6 separate regions of the Homo sapiens genome follow, and regions 1, 2, 3, 4 and 6 are each linked to region 5. Evidence: fine-mapped expression QTL. A gene starts in region 5. Each other region holds a variant in brackets. All regions are shown on one strand. Distances are from middle to middle.

Evidence for each region. PIP is the estimated chance that this variant, and not a neighbour inherited with it, causes the effect.
Region 1: its variant is fine-mapped to the expression of FBXW8 in monocytes after R848 (Quach 2016, PIP 0.95).
Region 2: its variant is fine-mapped to the expression of FBXW8 in whole blood (INTERVAL, PIP 0.97).
Region 3: its variant is fine-mapped to the expression of FBXW8 in lung (TOPMed, PIP above 0.99). The same link has a PIP of 0.9 or more in tibial artery.
Region 4: its variant is fine-mapped to the expression of FBXW8 in aorta (GTEx, PIP 0.98). The same link has a PIP of 0.9 or more in fibroblasts.
Region 6: its variant is fine-mapped to the expression of FBXW8 in whole blood (INTERVAL, PIP above 0.99).

Annotation. Positions count from the first base shown.
Region 1 is chr12:116,953,309-116,957,412 of GRCh38, forward strand. All of the region lies in intron 4 of FBXW8 (F-box and WD repeat domain containing 8), which reads left to right. Among named protein-coding and RNA genes, the nearest start is that of FBXW8, 44 kb to the left of the region's middle. The variant G/C (reference allele first, on the strand shown) is at 1,731.
Region 2 is chr12:117,117,276-117,121,379 of GRCh38, forward strand. All of the region lies in intron 2 of TESC-AS1 (TESC antisense RNA 1), which reads left to right. LOC105370010 (a long non-coding RNA gene) reads right to left here and starts at 3,762. Exons shown (of 4, transcript XR_945398.3): 1 at 3,575-3,762. RefSeq lists an enhancer at 1,218-1,812. The variant G/A (reference allele first, on the strand shown) is at 2,367.
Region 3 is chr12:116,966,299-116,970,402 of GRCh38, forward strand. The region is part of intron 5 of FBXW8 (F-box and WD repeat domain containing 8); the gene reads left to right. Among named protein-coding and RNA genes, the nearest start is that of FBXW8, 57 kb to the left of the region's middle. The variant C/T (reference allele first, on the strand shown) is at 2,382.
Region 4 is chr12:116,977,926-116,982,029 of GRCh38, forward strand. The region is part of intron 5 of FBXW8 (F-box and WD repeat domain containing 8); the gene reads left to right. It overlaps LOC100506551 (a long non-coding RNA gene), which reads right to left. Exons shown (of 4, transcript NR_103809.1): 3 at 2,325-2,494; 4 at 1-1,664. Among named protein-coding and RNA genes, the nearest start is that of FBXW8, 69 kb to the left of the region's middle. The variant T/C (reference allele first, on the strand shown) is at 1,802.
Region 5 is chr12:116,908,611-116,912,610 of GRCh38, forward strand. FBXW8 (F-box and WD repeat domain containing 8) reads left to right here and starts at 2,340. Exons shown (of 11, transcript NM_153348.3): 1 at 2,340-2,745. The coding sequence starts at 2,428. It also overlaps the pseudogene RPL36P15. RefSeq lists silencers at 2,168-2,387, 2,548-2,807.
Region 6 is chr12:116,852,288-116,856,391 of GRCh38, forward strand. RNFT2 (ring finger protein, transmembrane 2) reads left to right here. Exons shown (of 11, transcript NM_001382266.1): 11 at 1-1,344. HRK (harakiri, BCL2 interacting protein) reads right to left here. Exons shown (of 2, transcript NM_003806.4): 2 at 3,857-4,104. Among named protein-coding and RNA genes, the nearest start is that of HRK, 27 kb to the right of the region's middle. The variant A/T (reference allele first, on the strand shown) is at 2,166.

The DNA.
Region 1 (4,104 bases), 45 kb after region 5:
GGGCCAGGCTGGGTGTGCGTGAGTGGAGCCGCTCCGCTGTGTTTCTGCAGCATCCACAGGCAGGGCTGGCTGGTGAGGCTGCCGTTTCCAGCCCTCATTTGCTGCTCTGAAGCTTTGGCTATTATAGCATCATTTTGGTTTTTCTTTTGTGGCATGTGTCTATTTAAAAACAAAAGCAGCCGGCTGGGCGCGGTGGCTCACGCCTGTAATCCCAGCACTTTGGGAGGCCGAGGCGGGCGGATCACAAGGTCAGGAGATCGAGACCATCCTGGCTAACACGGTGAAACCCTGTCTCCACTAAAAAATACAAAAAAATTATCCGGGCATGGTGGCGAGTGCCTGTAGTCCCAGCTACTCAGGAGGCTGAGGCAGGAGAATGGCGTGAACCCAGGAGGTGGAGCTTGCAGTGAGCCAAGATCGCGCCACTGCACTCCAGCCTGGGCGACAGAGCAAGACTCCATCTCAAAAAAAAAAGACAAAAAAACAAAACAAAACAAACAAACAAAAAACAAGAAAAACAAAACCAGCCGGGCATGGTGGCTCACGCCTGTAATCCCAGCACTTTGGGAGGCCTAGGCGGGCAGATCATGAGGTCAGGAGTTCAAGACCAGCCTGGCCAACATGGTGAAACCCCATCTCTACTAAAAATACAAAAATTAGCTGGGCGTGGTGGCGGGCACCTGTAATCCTAGCTACTTGGGAGGCTGAGGCAGGAGAATTATTTGAACCTGGGAGGCAGAGGTTGCAGTGAGCTGAGATCGCACCATTGCATTCCAGCCTGGGCGACAGGGCGACTCTGTCTCAAAAAAAAAAAAAAAAAAAAAAAGAAAAAGCAGTGGTAAAAACCATGTTGTTTTGCAACCGTGTTAGAAAGTAGAGAAGAGAAAGCCACTCAAATTCTAGCATGGAACACAACCTTTATTAAGGTCTCCCATGTGTCTGGTTTGGTTTTCAGTCTGTTTTTCTATGCATGTTTTTTCATAGTGTGACTGTAGCCTTTGTTAGATTTGTGGCCTTTTCCCTCACCAAACTGATGAATTTTTTTCATGTTGCATATTTTTCATTACTTTCTTTGACTTGTTGCAAAAACACTTTGGATAATTATACCCCAATTTCCCTATTTATTCCCCTAATAGTGGACATTAAGGTCATTTCCTGTGTTTTGTTATATGTATGTTATGAATATTTTATGTATAGATGTCTGCAAATTTTTCTCCTTTTTAGCATTACAAATCTTTATTTTAAAATGATTAGACACATGCTACTGTAGAAACTTGAAATTCTATATAAGTATATAAAATAAAGAGTTAAAGTTCTCTCATTATCGTCTCCTAGTCTTGCAATCCTGATTGTTTTCCTAGGCTAGAGTCCTGTAAGCAGAATTACTGGATTTAGGGGAATGAATTTTTATTTTCCAGATTAATAAATTATTTAAAAGTGCTTTTGTAGCCCTCAGCTTCTTTGCAATCTAACCTTTTGACTTGAAGTCTCCAAACCATCCCTGCCATCTTCCTGTTAGTGCTGTACATAGTGAGAGCCCGTGCCTCCTGCCCCTCTTCCTTCCTCCCCGTCTAACCTCCCTCCAGCTGGCTCCATCCCAGCCCCACTGTGCTGCACTCTCAGAGGTCACCCGTGATCTTTTGGTCAACAAACCAATAGCCTTTTCTTGGCTCGTCCTCTCCAGCCTCTTGGCAACATTTGGTGCTGTTGACTTTCCCCTCTTGAAATGG[G/C]GGGGGGGGGCCCTGTATTAAGCATCTGTATGCCCTCAGAGTCTAACATCTTTCCCAGGACCCAGGAAACTTTGAGCCAAGTGTGTAAGAAAGGAAAACTCCCCTTCGGCGATTCCACACTCTCTGGACTTCCATTACCTCCGTGAGCGCCTTCTCTGGCCCTCGTTCTTGTCTTTCTCTGCTGTCACTTGACCACTTAGCAAGGATATGCAGCAGCGCAGAAAAGACCTGCACCAGTTGTTTTCTTTGTTGGAGAGATAAGTGGACGTGCCTTCAACTGCGACTGAGACATTCAGACACAACTTTTACTTTGCTTTTTCAGCGAAAATTTCTCATTTCTGTAACTTGAGAAAAATTTATGTTCATAAGTCACCAGTCTCTACAGAATCAGTCACCTGTCTTTCTCTCAAAGTTCAGCGCCTGTCTGCATTTGTATCTGTGATCTGCTGGACCTCCTGAAATGCTAGCGAGGTTTAGTGTGTGTTTTCCTTGTGTTTTAGCACAGAGTTTGTCTAGAAAGTTAGTTGATAGTAAGTGCTCAGGAAACATGTCTTTTGTTTGTTTCTTTGATTTATTGTGGTAACAGCTCTTAGAATTTTAGAATGTTTTGAAAATTGTATGTTTATCCTTGAGGAGAAAGAGTAGAAGAAAGGGGCATATGGAAACATCCCTGTTCTGTTTTGTGATGCTTAGACTGTTCTCGTCTTCCTTCTCCCCAGTTGCCCTCTGGAAGTTAAGTGTTGCAATCAGATGACATCATGAGTTCAAAAAAGACAGTATAAAACCTGAGGTGCAGGGCTAGGTGTCGTTTGCCATAAGTAGTGAAGGAGAGCCACCTAGTGAAGAGTGCATCTCAGGTAGAACCAGTAGCTCCTTGGAGGCCTTGTGCCAGCTCTGCTAACCATTAAGCCATTAGCTCACCAGAAGCTTTTATCAGATGCCCAGGAGTATGATGGTGTTTTGCAATAAACTCTCTCCTCATTGTTACTTGAGATTCATAAGGCTAAAGCATTCTAGTTGGCATAAGAAAACACACTTTTCTATTCATATGAGAGGACATTTTCTCTCTTTTGGTTTTAAAAAAAACACCAAGCAACCTGTTTGTGTTGAGGTTTTTTTCATTACTCCTAAATATTTTCTCCCCTGGTTTCCGCCTTTTTAGCATACCGTTCCTGCCTTTGCTGGAAGGAGCAGGGCTGTGTATCCATGCTTCTCTTCTGCCTAGTGTGGTTGGAAGGAGAACTGTATCATTTGCTGCAAACCATTAGCGCTCTTCTTACCCTAAAAACACTCAGTTGTCCCATTTTTGCTTCATTCCTTTTGAGGCAAGTGTGCCCAAGTAGATACAAAACAAAACTGCCCATACCTCTCTAGCAACCAAGTGATCTCTGGCTGCTGCTTCAGCTGCCAGACATGGCCTGATTCAAATATGTTTTTATTTTTCTGAGCCCCATTCATACACCCTGGCGTCAGAGTGAGAGGGTTTGCAGTTCTTTGTAGACAGAGAGCAAAATTTGGAGCTTCAAATTTATATATGTAAAAATTGGTGTCTGAATCTTTGGTTGGTTCAGTTTGCCTGTTGGCCCTTCAGTGGAATTTTATCATTGTTTTACAATTAAGAAGTATTGGAAAATATAATTTTAAACAGGGCAGGCACAGTGGCTCATGCCTGTACTCCCAGCACTTTGGGAGGCCAAGGTGGGTGGATCACTTAGGGTCAGGAGTTTGAGACCAGCCTGGCTAACATGGTGAAACCCTGTCTCTACTAAAAATAGAAAAATTAGCTGGGCATGGTGACACGTGCCTGTAATCCCAACTACTCGGGAGGCTGAGGCAGAAGAATCGCTAGAACCCAGGAGGTGGAGGTTGCAGTGAGCCGAGGTCATGCCACTGCTCCCCAGCCTGGGCAACAGAGTGAGACTCCATCTCCAAAAAATAAACAAAGTCATCTAAGGTAACTTGAAATACCTTGCTTTTAGCTATGTTGTCCTCTGCTTTTTCCAGTAATTACAAATGTACCTTGTTATTAGCCGGGCACAGTGGCATGCCTGTAATCCTAGCACTTTGGGAAGTCAAGGCAGGTGGGTCACTTGAGGTCAGGAGTTTGAGACCAGCCTGGCCAACATGGCAAAACCCCTTCTCTACCAAAAATACAAAAATTAGCCAGGCATGGTGGTGCACACCTGTAATCTCAGCTACTCGGGTGGCTGAGGCACAAGGATCACTTGAACCCGGGAGGTAGAGGTTGCAGTGAGCCAGGATCATGCCACTGCACTCCAGCTTGGTGACAGCGAGACTGTCTCAAAAAAAATTTTTTTTTAAAAAAGGACCTTTTTATCGACTGTATACCATGCCAAAATATGAATAGTAGCTT
Region 2 (4,104 bases), 210 kb after region 5:
ATCACTAGGTCTCTAGCACTTATTCATATTATGCTGAAGGTTTGTATCCTTTGACCAATATCTCTCCTCTCCCCCTGCCCCAGCCCCTGGTAACCAACATTCTACTGTCTGCTTCTATGAGTTGGACTTGCTTAGATTCCACACATAAGTGAGGTAATGCAGTGTTTGTGTTTCTATGTCTGCCTGATTTCAGTTAGAAAAATATCCTCCAGGTTCAGCCACAGTTTTGAAAATGGCAGGATCTCCCTCTTTTTTTTTTTTTTTTTTTTTTTTTGGAGACAGAGTCTCGCTCTGCCCCCCAGGCTGCAGTGGCACAATCTCGGCTCACTGCCACCTCCGCCTCCCAGGTTCAAGCAATTCTCCTGCCTCAGCCTTCCGAGTAGCTGGGACTACAGGCATGCGCCACTATGCCCAGCTAATTTTTGTATTTTTAGTAGAGATGGGGTTTTGCCATGTTGGCCAGGCTGGTCTCAAACTCCTGACCACAGGTGATCCACCTGCCTCAGCCTCCCAAAGTGCTGGGATTACAGGCATGACCACTGTACCTGGCCAAGGATCTCCCTCTTTTTGAAGGCTGAATAATATTCCTATGTGTGCGTTTCACATTTTCTTTATCCATTCATCTGTCGATGGACACTTAGGTTGTTTATCTTGGCTACTATGAATGATGTTGCAATCAACATGGAAGTGTAGCTATCCATTCAAGAAACTGATTTCATTTCCTTTGGGTAGATGCCCAGAAGTGGAATTGCTGGATCCTATGATAGTTCTATTTTTAATTTTTTGAGGAACCTCCACACTGTTTTCCACAATGGCTATACAAATTTGAAACAGCGTTTTAAGTTACCCATTTAAACTGTTACCCTTTCCTTCTTCCCTCACCCCCCACCCCACATCTCTCTAATATCTCCACTAAAAGCTCACAGCTCCTGGTAGGGACCACGATTTAACCTTGGCTTGACTTAATCTTTGCCCTCTATCCCCATAATTTATTTCCAGTCCAGAAAAAAGCCAGTGGTCACCTGTTGGGATTTTGGGCAAGTTCTGGGTTGAAATTCTCCTTCTTGTAGATTACAAGAGTTCTAGGCCAGGCGCGGTGGCTCACGCCTGTAATTCCAGCACTTTGGGAGGCCGAGGCACATGGATCACCTGAGGTCAGGAGTTTGAGACTAGCCTGGCCAACATGGTGAAACCCAGTCTCTGCTAAAAATACAATTAGCTGGATGTGGTGGCACATGCCTGTAATCCCAGCTACTCAGTAGGCTGAGGCAGGGGAATCACTTGAACCCAGGAGGAGGAGGTTGCAATGAGCCGAGATCGCACCACTGCACTCCAGCCTGGGCGTCAAGAGTGAAACTTCATCTAAAAAAAAAAAACAAAGAGTTCTAGAGTTCTAAAACTGTGATGTGCATAACATTCCCCTGGAGCCTCTGGTGTCGCAGGAAGGGTTGGGGACTCTGGGGTCAGTACCTGTTAGAAACCCCCAGGTGATGGTGAGGTTGGGGTGAGCAGGATGGCAAAATACTCTGCCCCCCACTGCTGGGAAAGGGATCTAAATCCAAGGGCCGCTCAGGGACTTCGCAGCCCCTCCCCTGTGGGCCTCTGCTCTTTGTCCCCATCCTATTGTTAAGGCCAGATGGCCACCCTTCAGCAAATAGTGGGAGGTGGAAGTGGCAGATTAGAGACCTCTAGACTCCAGCTAAAGCCTGCTCGTTGGGGGTCACCCATCCCTGTCCCACGCCTGCCTCAGCGTCCAGGCTGAGTGCCGCCCTCTCTGGAGGAACCAGGGTGGGCCACCTCAGTGAACCGGGGTGAACCGGCAGCTGTGGCTGAGCCAGGAGAAAACTCACACTCCCTCCAAGCTGCTGCTGCTGCTGGCTGGAAGCAAGGCTGGGATGCTCTGATGTCACCAGAAAGCGCCTCCTGTCAGGCCTCAGCCACTATTCTTAGTCTCAAGAACACACCTCCGCCTGTTAGAAGTCTCTCGACTTCAACAAGCTCTTTATAAATAACTTAGAAACTGGTAGTGTGCAGGGCTGCTGGCTAAGAACTTCTTTCTTTTATGCAAGATGTTCCAAGGGCCTCAGTGGTAGGCACACCTCGCTCCCGGGGAGCCCTGTAAATGTTATGATCTCAGGAACGGACGCTTCCATCCATGGGTGCTGCTGGCCCAGCTGTGCGCTAAGTGCCAAGCAGTTTCACAGGCAGTTCCAGAGCAGCTGGACGACCTGGATTCAAATCCTGGCTCTGCCACTTCCTGTGTGAGCTTGGGAAAGTCGCTTTGCTTCTCCTTGCCTCTTTGACTGCATCTACAAAACCAGGGCAATGAGAGTTGCGACAGCCCTGGGCTGTAGCAAAGAAGAAAA[G/A]AACTGAAACACACCAAGTGCTTAGAACAGCACAAGCCAGCAGCCGCCTGGGTGTCTGCCACTATCTTACTGTTGCTACTGATGTCCTTAGGAAGCACTTGTCCAGGAGAGACCTTTATCTCCATTTTATCCACAGGAAACAGAGACTCCTGCCCTCAGGTTAAATGACTGGCCTCATTCACCCGCCCTGTTGGTAGCCAAAGCAGGACTTGAACCCTAGTCTATTCCACTGGGAATCTCACGGTAAATTATAAAACTCTGCTGCCCCCTAGAGCATGAGGAGGGATCAGGCACAATCAAGACTAGCGGGGCTTCTCACCTGTGGGAACCTGTGACCAGCAGGAAAATCACTCCCTGGACACTGCTGGGGGAGCCACCCTCCTCCACCATCCTCCTCCAACATCTTGAGACCTTGGGCAGCTCAGTGCCCCCTCACTGAGCCTCAGTTTCTTCATCAATAAAATGGGTTTATAGTAACAGCATCTACCCTGTAGAGTAGTATGACAATTAAAGGACATGAGCTTTTAGGCCAGCCGCAGTGGCTCACACCTGTAATCCCAGCACTTTGGGAGGCAGACACAAGTGGATCACTTGAGGCCAGGAGTTCGAGACCAGCCTAGGCAACATAGAGACCCTGTCTCTACTAAAAATACAAAATGTAGCTGGGTGTGGTACCCTGTGCTTGTAATCCCAGCTATTCGGGAGGCTGGGGCATGAGAATAGCTGAACCCGAGAGGCAGGGGCTGCAGTGAGCTGAGATCGCACCACTGCACTCCAGCCTGGGCGACACAGCGAGACTCTGTCTCAAAAAAAAAAAAAAAAAAAAAAAAGGACGTGAGCTTTTATAAAGGCACCCTCTCCCATTTTTTTCTCTGGCCACATTGGGGTGAGTCCCATCAGCTTCCTGGATAAGGCAGGCCCCCTCCAAGACCAGCTGACCTCTCCAAGATGTGCCAGGGCTGCGGTCGCTCACGTCTCCCTCCAGGTCACCTTGGGGACTTCTCAAAACTTCATCTTTGGCACAGATTCCCTGGTGACTTGAGCTGGTTGTTTATGTGCATAAATGTCCCCTTACCCCACTGATGGACGTTGAGGTTCTTCTGATGTCCTCCCCGAGCAGGTGTTCCAGCAGGGTAACTGCTGAACCTGATGTTTCTTCTCCTCCCCCTCACCACCCACCCACCCCTAGTCATTGTGGAGCCACTCACTTGGCATGGAGAAGCACCATCTGGTGGCTTTTTCCAGGCGTTTTCCATATTTGCTATGGGACACCACGCTTGGTTGAATTCACAGGAGGGCCAATGCCTCTGGGGGCCTGGAGTGACGTGCTGGTTCCAGGAGGGAGTCAGGAATAGGAGATCTCCATTTCTCGTGTTAACACTTCCTTGCCAGGCCCCTACCAGACAATGTAAGAGGAGGAGCTCCAATGTGATGCAATCGACAGAGGGGTGCATCCTGCTCAGAAGGCAGGGGAGGCTGGGCGCGGTGGCTCACGCCTATAATCCCGGCACTTTGGGAGACCAAGGCAGGTGGATCACTTGAGGTCAGGAGTTCGAGACCAGCCTGGCTAACATGGTGAAACCCCGTCTCTACTAAAAATATAAAAACTTGCCAGGCATGGTGGTGGGCACTTGTAATCCCAGCTACTCGAAAGGCTGAGACAGGAGAATGGCTTGAACCCGGGAGGCGGAGTTTGCAGTGAGCCAAGATCGCGCCACTGCACTCCAGCCTGGGGGAC
Region 3 (4,104 bases), 58 kb after region 5:
CAAAGATTGCAGTACTTTTAAGTTAGAATCATATAGTTTTAGGATCATCTAATAGCCTTTCCCTACCATTCACACACACGAACATGCACACACATATTCTTCTACAGATGGGGAAACAGAGGTGCAAAGAAGCCAGGTAGGTTGAAGTCAGCAGTGAATCCAGAACTGTGATTGTGTCTCCAGGGCCGTGCTGCGGTGGTCGTGCTGTTTGTGGAATCCTGAACATAAAGACTCTTGTAGAAATGTGCGCCCAATTGATTTGCAGCCCATGTCTCACATCTCGTGAGCTTGAAAATACAGCTTGAGGTGATGTGCAGGGGTGCTGCTGCTGGTTTTATATTGTGAGAATTGTCTTCATTGCCCTCATCCCCTGTTGTTGCACAGAAATGTTGGGAAACAATGTAGGCATGATAAAGAATCTACTTTTTTTTTTTGAGACAGGGTTTTGCTGTGCCACCCAGGCTGGAGTGCAGTGGCACCATCTCGGCTCACTGCAACCTCTGCCTCCCGGGTTCAAGTGATTCTCCTTCCTGCCTCAGCCTCCCGAGTAGCTGGGATTATGAGTGCCCACCACAACAACCAACTAATTTTTGTATTTTTACTAGAGACGGGGTTTCACCATGTTGGCCAGGCTAAGAATCTGCTTTCTTTGGTAAAATGCTTCGCAAGTGATTGCCAAAATGTATTTTAAATTCTTTTTTTTTTTAAAGTCATAGTTAGAATTCAAACAGAGCAAAAATGTATATAAAATGACAAAGAAAAAGTATGCAAAAAGAAGTCGAGGTATTCCTCCCTGTCCCACTTCCAGGCCCTCTCGCATTTTACTCGTGGGGGGTCCTGCTCTGTATACTTCTCTGCACCTTTTTTTTTTTTTTTAATAACCTAATGGCACATCTTGGTGATCTTCCGTGTTCACACTTACAGGGTAAACCTTATTCTTTTTAATGCCTGTGTAGTACTGCATTATGTGGCTGTACCATCATTTATTTATTAGGGTCCTCATTGATACACATTTGAGTTGTTCATTTTTGTTATTGAAAACAGTGCTGCAAGCAATATACTTGAACAAATGCCAGGATGGACTTGTCCAAGGGTGGCCCTGGGGTGAGGTGCTAGTGATTGCTAGGTTGGAGGCTATGGCTGCAGGCTTTGGCTGCTTTAGGCTTTGATAACTATTGCCAAATTGCCCTCCAAAAAGGTTTCACCAGTTTATAGTGTCACCAAAAGTATGTGAGAGTGACTGACAGGTAAAAATGGCATTTTATTGTCTTTGTTTGCCTTTCTTTAATTACATGTGGACATCTTTTCTTTGTGTGTTGTTAGCTGTTTCTATTTCTTTCTCTGCAAATTGTTTGTTCCTGTCTTTCTTCATTTTTCTTTTGGGTTGTCATCTTTTCTGGTTGAAAAGAAAGCTTGGGAAATAATCCTTGCCATATGTGTTTCCGATATTTTTTCCGTAAGTCACTTATTCTTTTTTGTTTGTTTTGAGATAGAGTCTGGCTTTGTCATCCAGACTGGAGTGCAGTGGTGCGATCTCGACTCACTACAACCTCCGTCTCCTGGGGTCAGGCGATTCTCCTGCCTCAGCCTCCTGAGTAGCTGGGATTACAGGCGCCTGCCACCACGCCCAGCTAATTTTTTATATTTTTAGTAGAGCTGGGCTTTCACCATGTTGGTCAGGCTGGTCTCGAACTCCTGACCTCAAGTGATCTGCCTGTCTTGGCCCCCACAAAGTGCTGGGATTACAGGCTTGAGCCACCGCGCCTGGCTTGTCATTTATTCTTTAATGGACTTGTTTTCTAGAAGGTACTTGGTATGTGTGAACAATGTTAATTTTTTAATCTAAAAGTGAGTGGGGTTATTTTGTAATTTAATGTTTTTGATTACTACATTTTTAGGGTTCAAAGATCAAAATAATATAAAGTTATATATTGAGAAATCTTGCTGCCACCCACTTTTGTCTGCTCCATTCTGAAGTAACCATATTTTTTACTTTCTTGTATATCCTTGTATTTTAGTATTACAAGTACAAGAAAATATGAGTGTGTATATTCTTATTGCCCCCTTTTTAAAAAACAAAAGATAGCATACTATTTACTTTACATGATTCCACACCTTGGCTTTTTTCTCTAAATAGCATATCTTAAAAGGGAGTGCATGTCTGTGTAGAGAGAGTACCCCGTTTGCACACCTGAATGGTAATTCCATTGTGTATAAGCACTTTGGTTTATTGAAGGACAGTTGTGTTGTGTTTGCCGTTACAGTGTTGTAGTGAAAAACCTTGTAAAGATGACATTTCACACAAGTGCAAGGAGGATTGTTTTCTGGGTTACAGGGTAAATGCAAGTGGGGTTTTACTATTTTATGCTCTTACCAGCAAG[C/T]CATGAGAGTGTGCCCGCTTCCTCACAGTTTTGCCAACAAAGTATGTTTCCAGCTTTTGGGTATTCATCAGTTTGAGAAGAAATGGTCACCAAGTGTAGTTTTAATTTACATTTCTCTTAATGTGAGAAAGGTTAAATTAAAAAAAAAATGTGTACCTGCTACTTGTAGTTCTTTCTTTTTCTTCTGTTACTGTTATGGCTTATTTTTTATATTTTTATCTTGACAAGTTCGTCTTGGATTAGCATGCAGTATGGTTCCAAGTACATCTTTTTTCCAGCATCTCTTCTCGGAGAGCCCATTTCTACCTAACTGGTTTGAGGTGCTGCCTTTATAAGCTTTTAGCTATGAAATTCACTTTGTATCTGGGTCTGTTTCTGAACTTTGTGCTCTGTTTCAGTTGGTCTGTCTGGCAGCTTAAATTTACATCAAGCTTGTCAGTCTTGTCCTTTGGGGTTTCACGTCATGGTTGGGAAGATGATTACTCAACGCCTGGGTAAAATCTATAAGTGCTTCCAAGGCTGCAGTGTTTCCATTGAAATCTTTGATTCGTTTCAAGTTCATTTTGGTATTAAGGGCTCTTCCTTTTTTAGAGCCCTTGTGTTTCCCTGCTCCCCTCTCATGCTGAGCTTGTTTCATTGGTCTGATTCGGGTTGTTACTGTTTCTGTGATAAACAACAACTTCTATTCTTTCCCCAGACGTCAGGTGGCGTTACCTTTGGTCCCCCTTCAGTTTAACAGATCGACACTATGATATTTACACTAACATTTTCGTGAATAGCTACTTTTGGGCAAAGACAGATTCAAATAAACCCACATTTTTATATTGCTTCTTTCCAGGAGCAGCTAACTGGCACTTCTGAGGCAGAAACATGACAAAAAAAGGAATTTTACCTTGTGGGTTCTGCTGTCTAAAATTTGTGACACGGAAAAGAAGAATAAGACAATAAAATGAGTTAATGAACTTCAGTTCTCTGGTTGTGCCAAAGTGAGGCTCTGTAGCCATTGAAACGCCCTCGCTGGTCTACACGCACATTCTCGGTGGAGGGAATCGTATCCAGAGGGGGAGATGGAACCTGCTTTGGGGAAAGGGAGTCATCCCTGCATCCCTTTTAGCCTCTTTGCTCCGTAGGAACACTGTACATGCACCTGGGGTGTTGAGATTTGGCAAGGTGATCCACAGTTGTGATTTTTTGAATTCCAACCCTCTGGCCTCATATTTCTTCTGCCTTGTTTCCGATTGTCAGCACTGGCCATCCTCCAGTTTGATTTTACCACTAATTGTGTTGCACGTTACCATACCGAAATGAATCAAATCAAAATGCTTTTCCTGGAGCATTAGATAAAGCAGGCGAAGGTTCTGAGTAATGAGCAGATGCTGCTAATGCAGGGACGGCGGAGACCTTGCCAGGACTCCATCTGCTCCGTGCTTGCCTGCCTTTGGCCTCGTGCCACAGCATTAGGGAATGGCAGTGTGCTTCGAAACCCGCTCCCTGGTCACCGAGTTTGTCTTGAAATCTCGCTCTTTGGTGAGAAATGAGATTACACACTTCTTAGGTGCAAAGAAGTTTTTATTTGTCCCCCTCAGTAGAGAGAGGAGAGACGCGATCTGGTGCATATTAGCATGAGGAAGCCTGGACGGGACAGCCAGCAGTCCTCTTTATATGGTGCCATCAAGCACGGCAAAGTGGCTTATCCACCTCCGCAACACTCCCAGTGCAACTG
Region 4 (4,104 bases), 69 kb after region 5:
AATTTGAGAGCTACTAAATATATTCAATCTTACTTCCTCTTCTCTTGACTCAGTTTCTATTTTGGTGATCTCGCTGCTTTGTTTATGCCCTAACCAGTCGCCTCCTCCATAAGCCTATTCAGATTCTTTTACTTGTCAATCTAAAATGCAGATTCCAGAATGTTTTCTGTTTATTTTCTGCCTTAGGCAACAGAGCTGTAGCGCTGTGGTCAGCGGGAAAGCAGGATGGCATGCCACAGTAGCTGCAGTAACAAGAAACTTCAGCCTTTTTCCTTTTTCGTGACCCTCCGTGGTTTAGCTGTTCTTTATGACCCTTGTCTACACTGATACTAATCTCCCACCGGCACCTCTTCCATGAAGAGCAAAAACTTTTGTCCTGTCCAACTTTATGCTAGTTTTATGTCTCTGGCCTGCATTTCAGAGTGGTGATGTGTGGACTTAATGAACAAAGAGGTACGTGTTAAGTCAGTGCTATGGGTATATTTAAAATTTTTGTCAAAATGCCTTTTCCTTTGTTGCAGAATTTCTTTTGACTCCTGATTAATTTCTGATAGGCAAGTGTTTATTTACATGGTAGAAATTGAGATTGCCAGCTGTCTTTATTATAAATAGTCAACTTCATTCAGTATCTCTGAACGCAGTTAATTGATCCTGTCTATTTAACGATCATGAAGTTGACACCAAGCTTCAGGTGTTTATTGTGGAAGCTCAAGAGGATGGGAGCTCGCGGCTGAAATAATTTCTAATCAAGAAACCACTAAAGACCACAAGACCAGCTCTGTAGTTGAAGAAGGGACTAGTCTATGACCTTTCGAAACTGTTAACCTGTTTTAAATTTTGTGGTGCATGGAAAAGATCAAAGGGGAGGGAAGAGTATACCAATTGTGTTTTTTTTCCAAAACCAGTTCAGCAGTTATTTACCTTTCAGGCAATTAACATAATTACCATTATGCTAAAAAGTAATTTTGGAAAGTTCTGCCCTGAGCTCTTATGACTCCACCGGGACAGTTTTAGTTGGGACTTATCTTTTTGATGGAAGCTTAATTGCAATTTTGGCTTTGTGCACACAAACAGAAGCAGCTAATTGTTTAGGCAAATAGCAGATTAATTTAAATATGCATCCCTAATAAAACAAAAATGGTATCCATTATGGTCCTTGTTCCCATGACGAAGAATATAAATATTCTGTGCAAGTACCATTAGACAGAGGTCTTAAGGATTGTCGACATTATTTCACAGTGGTAGCACTTTCCAGATATCGAGTAATCTTTACAAAAGCTAACATAAATCAGTTTAAACTCATTTAGATCCCATTTCCACTATGTGCAGTTTCATTACCACACTCTGGCTGGCCTCCTTAGGGAGGTGGGAGGGGCCTGCTGCAAACTGGCATGGGTGCCCATCCACAGCTGCTGAGCAGGCTTTATGTCTCCTCGAAAGACTGGCCATCGTTACTCATGTCATCGTTAATGGCTGTTACTGGTCTAGGCTGAGCTCAGAGTTCCTTCAGCCTGGCTGCTGCTTGTCAAGGTGGAGGGTCCTGAGCCCAGGGAGCAGGTGGGAGTGCCAGGCCCTGCCCCTTCTCCTTTATTGGGCCAGTGGTCCTCACTTGTCTTCTGGATGTTTCAAGAGACCCAGTTTCTTCTTTTGTCTGCATCCTTTTCCTGTTTGTTATGAGTGAAACAGTATTGTTGCAATCCCAGCACTACTCAGAATTAATCATCTTTTATCCAGCTATTGAGGTTTGGTCAGGAAGGAAGAAAAACACCTGCTCTTTCTGTTTCTCTAGTGTGGGGCAAAA[T/C]GGGGGCTATAAACTCTGGCCTTCAGGATGATGCCTGGTGCAGGGAATGGCAAAAAAAAAAAAAAAAAAACACTTGCTTCTTATGCCACTGCCAAGAAACCAAGTAGAACCTCCCTTTGTGTTTGCTGAGACTTTTTCTCTTGTTTTACCTTGGCCTACTGTGCAGGAGAGAAGTCGTAGAGATCTTTGGGCAGGGGGTTGTCTCCTTGCCCTGAGGTCCCTCCCCAGGCCCTCTCCAGGTGGGCATGTTCATAGTATTTGAGTTAGTCTTTTGGCCTCAGCTAATTGGATGAGGGATGGGGCCCCAGTTCTTGGGGGAAGCTGATTCATGGACTGGGATGGGCTGGTTGGGACTCAAACTTTGTTGCATTCTTGGAGTAGAAGACCTCCTGGAATGGGGACAGCCACCTTTCTCCATGTACCCAGGGATGAGAGAAAGCTGGTTTCCGAAAAGAAGAATGAAATAGAATTGCAGAGAGAAGCAGAGATAAGATCTGTGGTGCACACAAGTTACATACACTACCTTGGTTCTGCATGTCTTCCTGGTTCCTGGTTCTGATCCCTTATCACCTCCAGCTGTACTTCCTGCCCTTGGGCTCCATGAAGTAGCCTCATTCCTTTCCAGTCAGTTTCCTTTTTATGTTTAAGCCAGTTTCAGTGGGTGTCTGTTTCTTACAACCAAATGTTCCATTGCTGAAACATATGACAAGCATTAAGCAAACCTTTATTGATGTACAGCCACATCCAGCACTGTGAATTCCTTACCATAGGGCATAGAGAGGGAAAAGGACACAGTCTTGCCATTTCACAAGTTCACAGTGTCAGGAGCCAAATCCATTTCATTGCTAGGTCCGCAGTATGATAACACTTGACCTTTCAAATGAATTTATATCAGATTTAAAAAAAAATACCTATTTGAGAAGTGAATTTCCTTGACCCTGACAGGCATTAACTACTTCTTCCTTAGTAGTTATGCAATAAATGCAGACTTGGTTCAAGTTAAAACATCTAGAAAAGTTTGCTGCTCCTTTTCTGGGGTCTTAAAATAGTGTGACAGCATGACCAAAAGTTAAGCTTATTCATTGTTCCATTGTGCTTTGTGTATATCTCTCTGTGATCATTGTGTTTTATATTTTAGTTATTAAATATTTGTTTCTCTCCAGTGTGTGTTTTATGAAAACAGGTATCCTTTCAATTCTTATATGTCACTAAAATGTTGGCTCGATCAGTCAGGGACTTTTTTTGTTTTATTTTGTCTTATTCACTGTGATATCCCCAGTCCCTAGAATAGTGCCTTGGTACAAAACAGGGAGCTCTGTAACTACCTGTTGAATGTATTATTGCATTGATTCCTTTTTGGCTAAATGTAGCTGATGATAATCAGCCACACTATTATAGAGCATTCTTGTAATTCAGTTATTCACTATTCAAGTCCTTGCAGTTTTGAGATTATAAAAGTAGCCATGATATAACTGTAGTAACTGATAAATTGACCATTTATAAAATTAGCTTTCACTCAAACACCCCTCCCTGTTAGCTTCTGTATCTATTCCTGCCCACTCTGCCCATATGCTTTTGGGGCAGATATCCAACAATACAGTTCAAAGGGAAATTGCAAACCTTGCAGAAGCTGCAGGACTTTGTGATGTTGAAAGTGACAGTGAAAGAACTAGAAGTGGTAATTACATGGATAAATAGAAATGGCTTTTTTATTATTTAAATATCTTTAAAAGATAATTGCCTGCTTATGCAAAAGTAATAACAATGTATTTAAGGTTTACAAGATGTACAAATAAAAAGTTTGTAACATATGTAGAAATAAAAAGTATGACAGTAATAGCACAAAGGCTGGAAGGGAAGAAATGGAAGTATGCTGCTGTGAAGTTCTTTTTTTTTTTTTTAATTGAGACAGAGTCTCACTCCGTCACCCAGGCTGGAGTGCAGTGGCACTATCTTGGCTCACTGCAACCTCCGCCTCCCAGGTTCAAGCAATTCTCATGCGTCAGCCTCCTGAGTATCTGGGATTACAGGTGCCCACCACAATGACTGGCTAATTTTTGTATTTTTACTAGAGACGGGGTTTCACTTTGTTGGCCAGACTGGTCTCAAACTCCTGACCTCAAGTGATACGCCCACCGCAGCCTCCCAAAGTGCTGGGATTACAGGCATGAGCCACCACACCCAGCCTAAAGTTCTTATATAACATGTGAAATGATACACTATTACTTGCAGGTAGACTGTGATAAAGACTTATGTTAAAATCCAAAAGCAACCTCTAAAATAACAAAGAGTTTTGGCTAACA
Region 5 (4,000 bases):
ATGGCTGCCAAGAAGAACTGAGACTTCTTCCCCTTCTGTGTATAATAAAACCTTTACGGAAAAAAAAGAGAATGCTTACTTGTATTGGATGCTTATGTTCCATCTTGCATCACTTCACTCATCTTTTACCTTAGTCACTGCTGTAGCAACTGGCTTTGTGCACGTGTAACCTGACAGTCGTTCCTGTTAGCTGCACAGTGTACCTCCTGCTTTTTGCCCCAGAGCATCTCTGCTGCCTTGGTACGGAACATCCATGATAATCCGTTTACTTATACCCAATCTAGAAGTGGGAGGTTGTTAAAGCTCCTTGGCTTAGCCTTTCTCTAGTAGGGGATGAGAGTCACTGGACAAATGCTTTCCTCTTCTGGCTCTTATCTCTTGGGAGGACAATTCTGAGCTGTGTTCTAAGGCTCCTTAGAAGGTGCTAATGGAATGAGCCTAAATTGCCACAGTAGGACCAACTCAGAGATGCTCTTTCTTTTTTTTGTTTTTTTGAGACAGAGTCTCGCACTGTCGCCCAAGCTGGAGTGTAGTGGTGTGAATATACGCCCAACCATATACTCTAATTTTCTACAGTGAAGGTTGTCCAAGCCTGGTTTCCCACAGTAAGCAAGCCTGAGCCCTGGGTTTGTAGGCAGCTAGTTTATTTACAGAAGTGATTCTAGAGAAGAGGCCTGAGAGACTAAGAAGAGTTAGACAAGGAATAAGGGACAGTTAATTGCAAGAGCATCTTTGAGCCTGGAGTGGTGGCTCACACCTGTAACCCCAGCACTTTGGGAGGCTGAGGTGGGTGGATCACTTGAGGTCAGGAGTTCAAGACTAGTCTGGCCAACATGGTGAAACCCTATCTCTACTAAAAATACAAAAACTTAGCCAGGTGTGGTGGCGGGCACCTGTAGTCCTAGCTACTCAGGAGGCTGAGGCAGGAGAATGGCGTGAACCCGGGAGGCGGAGCTTCCAGCGAGCCGAGATCGCGCCACTGCACTCCAGCCTGGGCAACAGAGCGAGACTCCGTCTCAAAAACAAAACAAACCAAACAAACAAACAAACAAAAAACCATTTATTGAGCATGTATTAATCACCAGTCTCAAAGCTAAGAGTTGCCAATCTAGAAGGGAAGGGATATATATATATACATAAAAATAAAATTACAAATTGTGTTATGTATTATGATGAGAAGTACAGGATGCTGTGAGAATGAGTAACAGGGATACCTGATGTTTCTTGAGTGGAGGTTGGAAGATTAAGTGAAATGTGAGTTGAGATATGAAAGATGTGTAGGAGTTAACCAAGTCAAGGTGGGGGGAAAAGTTCCCTGCTGAGGGAATATCAGGTGCAAAGAAAACATTTTTAAGTGGAACGCCATCGTATGTCATTTTCTTTCCCATCTTAAAGCCCTTGGATTTCCTTCTGGAAATCTCTCTCCTAAGATCTGACCTTCCCTTGGCTGGTTTCTCTTTCAGATTTTTAAAAAAAAATTTTTATTTCCACAGGTTATTGGGAACAGGTGGTATTTGGTTACATGAGTAAGTTCTTTAGTGGTGATTTGTGAGATTTTGGTGCACGCATCACCCGAGCAGTATACACTGAACCCAAGTTATAGTCTTTTATCCCTCCCCACCTTCCCACCCTCCCCTCGTCCCCCTCCCCTGTTCCAAAGTCCCATAAGTCATTCTTATGCTTTTGCATCCTCGTAGCTTAGCTCCCACTTATATGTGAGAACATACGATGTTTGGTTTTCCATTCCTGAGTTACTTCACTTAGAATAATAGTCTCCAATCCCATCCAGGTTGCTACGAATGCCATGAATTCATTCCTTTTTTATGGCTGAGTAGTATTCCACCATATGTATATATCAGTTTCTTTATCCACCTGTTGATTCTCTTTTAGATTTTAATTTAAATAACATCTTAAACAGACTTTCACTATCAATCCTTACTCCCCTTACCTTACCTTATTTTGTTTTCTTCCTAATACCTATCACTGATTTAAATGTTCATATTTCTTTGTTTAAAGTCTCCCTACTTAAACGCATGCTCCAAGACGTCAGAGTTTTTGTTTTGTTTTACAGATTTAAATGCTGAATTCTTGGTGCCTGGCATATAGTAGTTGCTGAATGAATGTTTGTTGAATGAAGGAACAATGCTTGGCGCAAAGTCAGAGCTTAGCAAAAGTGATAGGCAGCAGAGCTGACGGGCTGAGGGGCAGCTGCGTAAACCTCTGCTTTGGGCGCCACAAGCCACAAGCCGGACCACCACGTGCGTACAGGGGCAGCGCCGGGGGCGTGGCGGGGGCGTGGACGCCCACCCGGAACCCTAGAGCGGCGGCGGCAGCGGCTTCCGGCCGCGGCGGACACTTCCCTGGGCGGGACTGTCTCGTGGCACCCGGTGGAACCGAGGAGAACGTGGAGCGCCGGGAGCGGCGAATATGGACGACTACAGCCTGGATGAGTTCCGTCGGCGCTGGCAGGAGGAGCTGGCGCAGGCCCAGGCGCCGAAGAAGCGGCGACGGCCCGAGGCTGCCGAGAGGCGGGCTCGGCGGCCGGAGGTGGGCTCCGGGCGCGGCGAACAGGCCTCGGGGGACCCGGCGCTGGCCCAGCGTCTCCTGGAGGGCGCGGGGAGGCCCCCGGCGGCGCGGGCGACTCGGGCCGAGGGGCAGGACGTAGCGAGCCGCTCACGTTCTCCTCTGGCCCGCGAGGGCGCCGGGGGCGGGGAGCAGCTGGTGGACCAGCTCATCCGCGACCTGGTGAGTGGCCGTCGCCTCCCCCCCGCCCATGCCTGCGCCGGCCCCCGCCCCCAGGACAAACCCCTGCAGTGATTTGGAGAGTAACTGTGTGCCACTAGTTGCCCGAGAAAATGAGTAGACGCACAAACACCAATGTTTGTGCTTGCATAGGGGTCTTTCTGGAAGCAGCACTTCCCAACCAGGGCGATTTTGTTCCCCCAGATGTGGCAGTGTCTGCAGACATTTTTGGGTGCCTCATCGGGGTGTGTATGTGTGCATGTTACTGGGCATCTAGTGGGTAGAGGCCAGAGATGCTCCTGAACATCCTACAGTGTACAGGACACCACGCACAAAAAAATTATCCAGGACAAAATATCAGTAAGTGTGGGGTTGAGAAATCCTGCTCTTGAAGGCTACCTAAACTTTGAACAAAGGTTGCCTTTGAAAAGGAGGACCCAGATGATGGATAGGAAGTAATTTTACCTTTGTATACTGTTTGCACTATTTAATTTTTGTAACCGTGCACGTATTCAAAAAAATTATCTCAGAAAAAAAGGAAGAAGAGGAGGAAGAATCTCCTGGGCACTTTCATTAGGATAGAGTTTCTTATCTTTTTGTGGGGCGTGGATACCTTGGAGAATCTGGAGGAAGCTGGGGACCCTGTGTCCGTTAAAAATAATCCCCTTCAGAAAGTTGGGAAAATCAAGAACACCTGAAATGCATCCGTGGCTCCCAGGTTAAGAGGACAAGGCTCCAGGTTCTAATGGTTTGATTTAAATTAGGCCCAAAGGAAGTCCCTACAGCTTTACAATTGGGAACCCACTTTTTTTTTTCCTGTTTTTTTTTTTTTTTCTTTCTTTCTTTCTTTTCTGAGACAGGGTCTTGCTCTGTTGCCCAGGCTAGAGTGTACTGTTGCTCTCCCGGCCCACTGCAGCCTCAAACTGCCTGGCTCAAGCCATCCTCTTCCCTCAGCATCCCGCGTAGCTGGGACTACACGCATGCGCCACCACACTCAGCTAATTTTTTAAATTTTTTGGTAGAGACAAGGTCTCCCTGTATTGCCCAGTCTGGTCTCAAACTCCTGGGCCCAAGTGATCCTCCCAATTGAGAATCATTCTTTTTTTTTTTTTTTTTTTTTGAGACGGAGTCTCGCTCGCTCTGTCGCCCAGGCTGGAGTTGCAGTGGCGCGATCTCGGCTCACTGCAAGTTCCGCCTCCTAGGTTCACGCCATTCTCCTGCCTCAGCCTCCCCAGTAGCTGGGACTAACAGGCGCCCA
Region 6 (4,104 bases), 56 kb before region 5:
CTCGCTGTCAGCCAGTATTAACATGTCCCCTTCCCCCTGCCCCGCCGTAGATTCAGGACATTTGCCCCTGTGTGCCACCAAACCAGGACTTTCCCCTTGGCTTGGCATCCCTGGCTCTCTCCTGGTACCCAGCAAGACGTCTGTTCCAGGGCAGTGTAGCATCTTTCAAGCTCCGTTACTATGGCGATGGCCATGATGTTACAATCCCACTTGCCTGAATAATCAAGTGGGAAGGGGAAGCAGAGGGAAATGGGGCCATGTGAATGCAGCTGCTCTGTTCTCCCTACCCTGAGGAAAAACCAAAGGGAAGCAACAGGAACTTCTGCAACTGGTTTTTATCGGAAAGATCATCCTGCCTGCAGATGCTGTTGAAGGGGCACAAGAAATTGGAGCTGGAGAAGATTGATGAAAGTGCAGGTGTGTAAGGAAATAGAACAGTCTGCTGGGAGTCAGACCTGGAATTCTGATTCCAAACTCTTTATTACTTTGGGAAGTCACTCAGCCTCCCTGTAGCCATCTCCAGGGTGACGGAACCCAGTGTATTACCTGCTGGAACCAAGGAAACTAACAATGTAGGTTACTAGTGAATACCCCAATGGTTTCTCCAATTATGCCCATGCCACCAAAACAATAAAACAAAATTCTCTAACACTGCAAAGAGTGAGCCATGCCTGTTAACACTGTAAAGAATGTAACATGTGGGGGACACACAGGGGCAGATGGGATGGTTTAGTTTAGGATTTTATTAGTGCATGCCCTACCCTCTGGGGGAACGTCCCATCTGAGGTTTTCTTCTCGGTGGGGGGATTTAACTTCTGTCCTAGGGAAAACAGTGTCTGATGAGGAGTGTTTCCAACACAGGCTACATGAATTCCCCTATACCAGTGCGAAAGCAGCCAGGAGTCCCCGTTGGAAAAGAACAATGCCACTCTCTTTTATGTATCTTGGTTCTGCAACTCATTTGTTGTAAGTAGGGTTAATCGAGTATCAGGTTCACAGTATCCTGCCCTTATTATTTTATGATTCACTGACTCAAGTTCCACGAAGTCCTTAGAAATGGACCTCTTCATGTAAAATATCTTGAGAATAATAAATGTGAGGGAATAAGAAAGGCAAGCTTTGGACACAGATATGATAGGTGCATCAGCTTCGGAAGAGAAGAATGATGTGCAGAGTGTTAGGAAGACATCCGGGCTGCTGAGACTCGGGATTAGAAGAAAGAGAGGTAAATAAAGTGGGTCCTGGAATCTTTTAGGACTTCTGCTGTAGGACAAACAGCTGCCTTTGGTGTTTTAATGTCTCCCAAAGTACCCTTCAGCCAATAAATACCATCTGTTGGTGCAACTTGTGTTTGTGGTCTTGATTTTCCTTTCACCTCTTGAAGCCAAGTGCAACTGTCTTAGATCAAAGGAGAAGAAGCCCTTCGCGGAGTGGGTGGTTGTCTTATGTTGGTTTCTCCTAAAGCAGATCCTGTTCAGGTGCATGTGATTTATTACAGCAGTGCTCCCACGAGAAACCAGTAAGGGAATCATGAGTGAAATAGAACAGGGAAGGGAAAGAAGCCAAGCTCTGGCGAACTCTCAGTCTTAGCCGGATCCCCCAGGGAGCTCAGGAGCATAAGTTTCATCTCAGAGTTTGTCCCATCCCACAAAATACACACCAATTGATACTTGGCACTGGGCTGATGGGGGGACTTCCTGCACTTCAGACTCTCCCCTAAGAGGCTCCAAGGGGAAGCCTCTGAAGGCCCCAGATACCAGCAAAGCACACGAAAGTGCAGGATAGGAATCTGGCAAAAGGGATCAGAAAGGGCCTCTGTGGGGCACTTACAGTGCCCACTACAGGGGCTAACTGGAGGTTTTGCGGACCAAAAATGTATAGGCTGATTCAAGAAGGGTTTTCCAGGGCGCCAGATTATGATAGATATTTAAATGTAGATTAATAGCACGAGGTGACAGTACATGCCTCTCAGGGCAACATTATGACACCAGCCATGAAAACATCGCATCAGGCCAAACTTTTGGGTTGCCATCAAGGCTGGGCGTGGTGGCTCACTCCTGTAATCACAGCATTTTGGAAGGCCAAAGTGGGAGGATCGCTTGAGCCCAGGAATTTGAGGACAGCCTGGGCAACATAGCGAGACCCCCATCTCTACAAAAAAAATT[A/T]AAAAATTAGCCAGGCATGGTGATATGCGCCTGTGGTCCCAGCTACTCCGAGGTGGGAGGATCGCTTGAGCCCAGGAGGTGGAGGCTGCAGTGAGCCGTGATCACACCACTGCACTCCAGCCTGGGCAACAGAGCTAGACCCTGTCTCAAAAAAGAAAAAAAAAAAGAAAACCAATTCAAATATGGCTTAAGTAAAATAAAGACTTTATTTGGTTTACGTAACTGTATGGGCTTCAGGCACAGCTGGATTCAGAGACTCCCAGTGTTGATATAGAATTGTGTCTCTCGGTCAGGCGCAGTGGCTCACGCCTGTAATCCCAGCACTTTGGGAGGCTGAAGCAGGCAGATCACTTGAGGTCAGGAGTTGGAGACCAGCCTGATCCCCTCTCTACTAAACACACACACACACACACACACACACACACACACACACACACACACACACACACACAACAACTAGCCAGGCGTGGTGGCCCACACCTGTAATCCCAGCTACTCAGGAGGCTGAAGCACAGGAATCGCTTAAACCTGGAGGCAGAGGTTGCAGTGAGCTGAGATAGCACCACTGCATTCCAGCCTGGGTGACAGAGTGAGACCCTATCTCTGTAAAAAAAAAAAAAAAAAGAGAGAGAGAGAGAGAGAATTGTGTCTTGGCCATCCCTCAATTCTGTTTTCCTCTGAGACAGTTTGATTTTCAGGCAGCTGGACCCATGTGGTGGTAAGATGGCCCGCAGCAGTTCTGCGTTTATGTTCTAGCAGCTTAACAACCCCTGCATCCCGAAAGCTCCACCAAAAGTCCTAAGACTGACTCTCATTTGTTTGTCCCAAACCAATTACTTTAGCTGGTGAGATGTGGAGCACTGGCCAGGCCTGGGCCAGCTGTTGAGCTCTTGAGGTAGTGAGAGGATGGAGTCGGCCCCTCTAAGTCATGTAGACTGAAAGTGGGGCAGGGATGGGTGTTCAAAGGAAAAGAGAAGGTCTGGTATCTAAAAAAACAACCTGGGCCAGGCGCGGTGGCTCACGCCTGTAATCCCAACACTTTGGGAGGCCGAGGCAGGTGGATCACCCGAGGTCAGGAGTTCGAGACCAGTCTGGCCAACATGGTGAAACCCCGTCTTTACTAAAAATACAAAAGTTAGCCAGACGTGGTGACACACGCTTGTAATCCCAGCTACTCAGGAGGCTGAGGCAGGAGAACAGCTTGAACCCAGGAAGCAGAGGTTGCAGTGAACCAATATCGTGCCACTGCACTCCAACCTGGGCAACAAGGGAGAAACTCTGTCTCCAAAAAAAAAGGTATGTGTACTCAAACTCCCATTCTTAGGATGAGACTAGAACCCGAGTTGTCCGCAGTTGGAGACATTAATCTGCAGCCTCATTGGCTTGTCCACAGGATACCATGCATAAATTATGGTTGTGTGCACTCACCTCGAACTGTTGGGCAAGTTTCCCAAACCTGTGGCCCAACCCAAGGGCATTCTTTAGGCCAGTCCTTCCCTTCAGGGTTTGGGCGGGGCGGTGGATCTTAGGAATTAGAGGAGAGAAGGAAGTGTCTGGCCTTCTGCCCAAGGGAACATTGGGGCAGGCAGGAGCCAGGGGCAGGGATCCTGTCCCTGTTATGCAGCTGGGTACTCCCAGAGTCTATGAGGGCCAGCCTTCCAAAAGGAAATGAAAACACAAATGTCTTTGGCTAGAAGTGCACAATCAGTTTTTTAATAAAGTCATTACAAATATGTACAAAGCGTCTCCAAGGTATGAAATTCCTCTTACAAAAGAGCACAACGACGTCAGAACCAACAACGTCAGAACCCAGAACGGAACGTCCCCAAGCTTATTGCCTCTCTGGCTAGGCCAGAGGCCTCACTAAGGTTCTCCAGATACCCTCCCAGCCGCCCCTGCCACGCACACGGGCTCCTTGGCGCTTATAGTGCAAAGACCT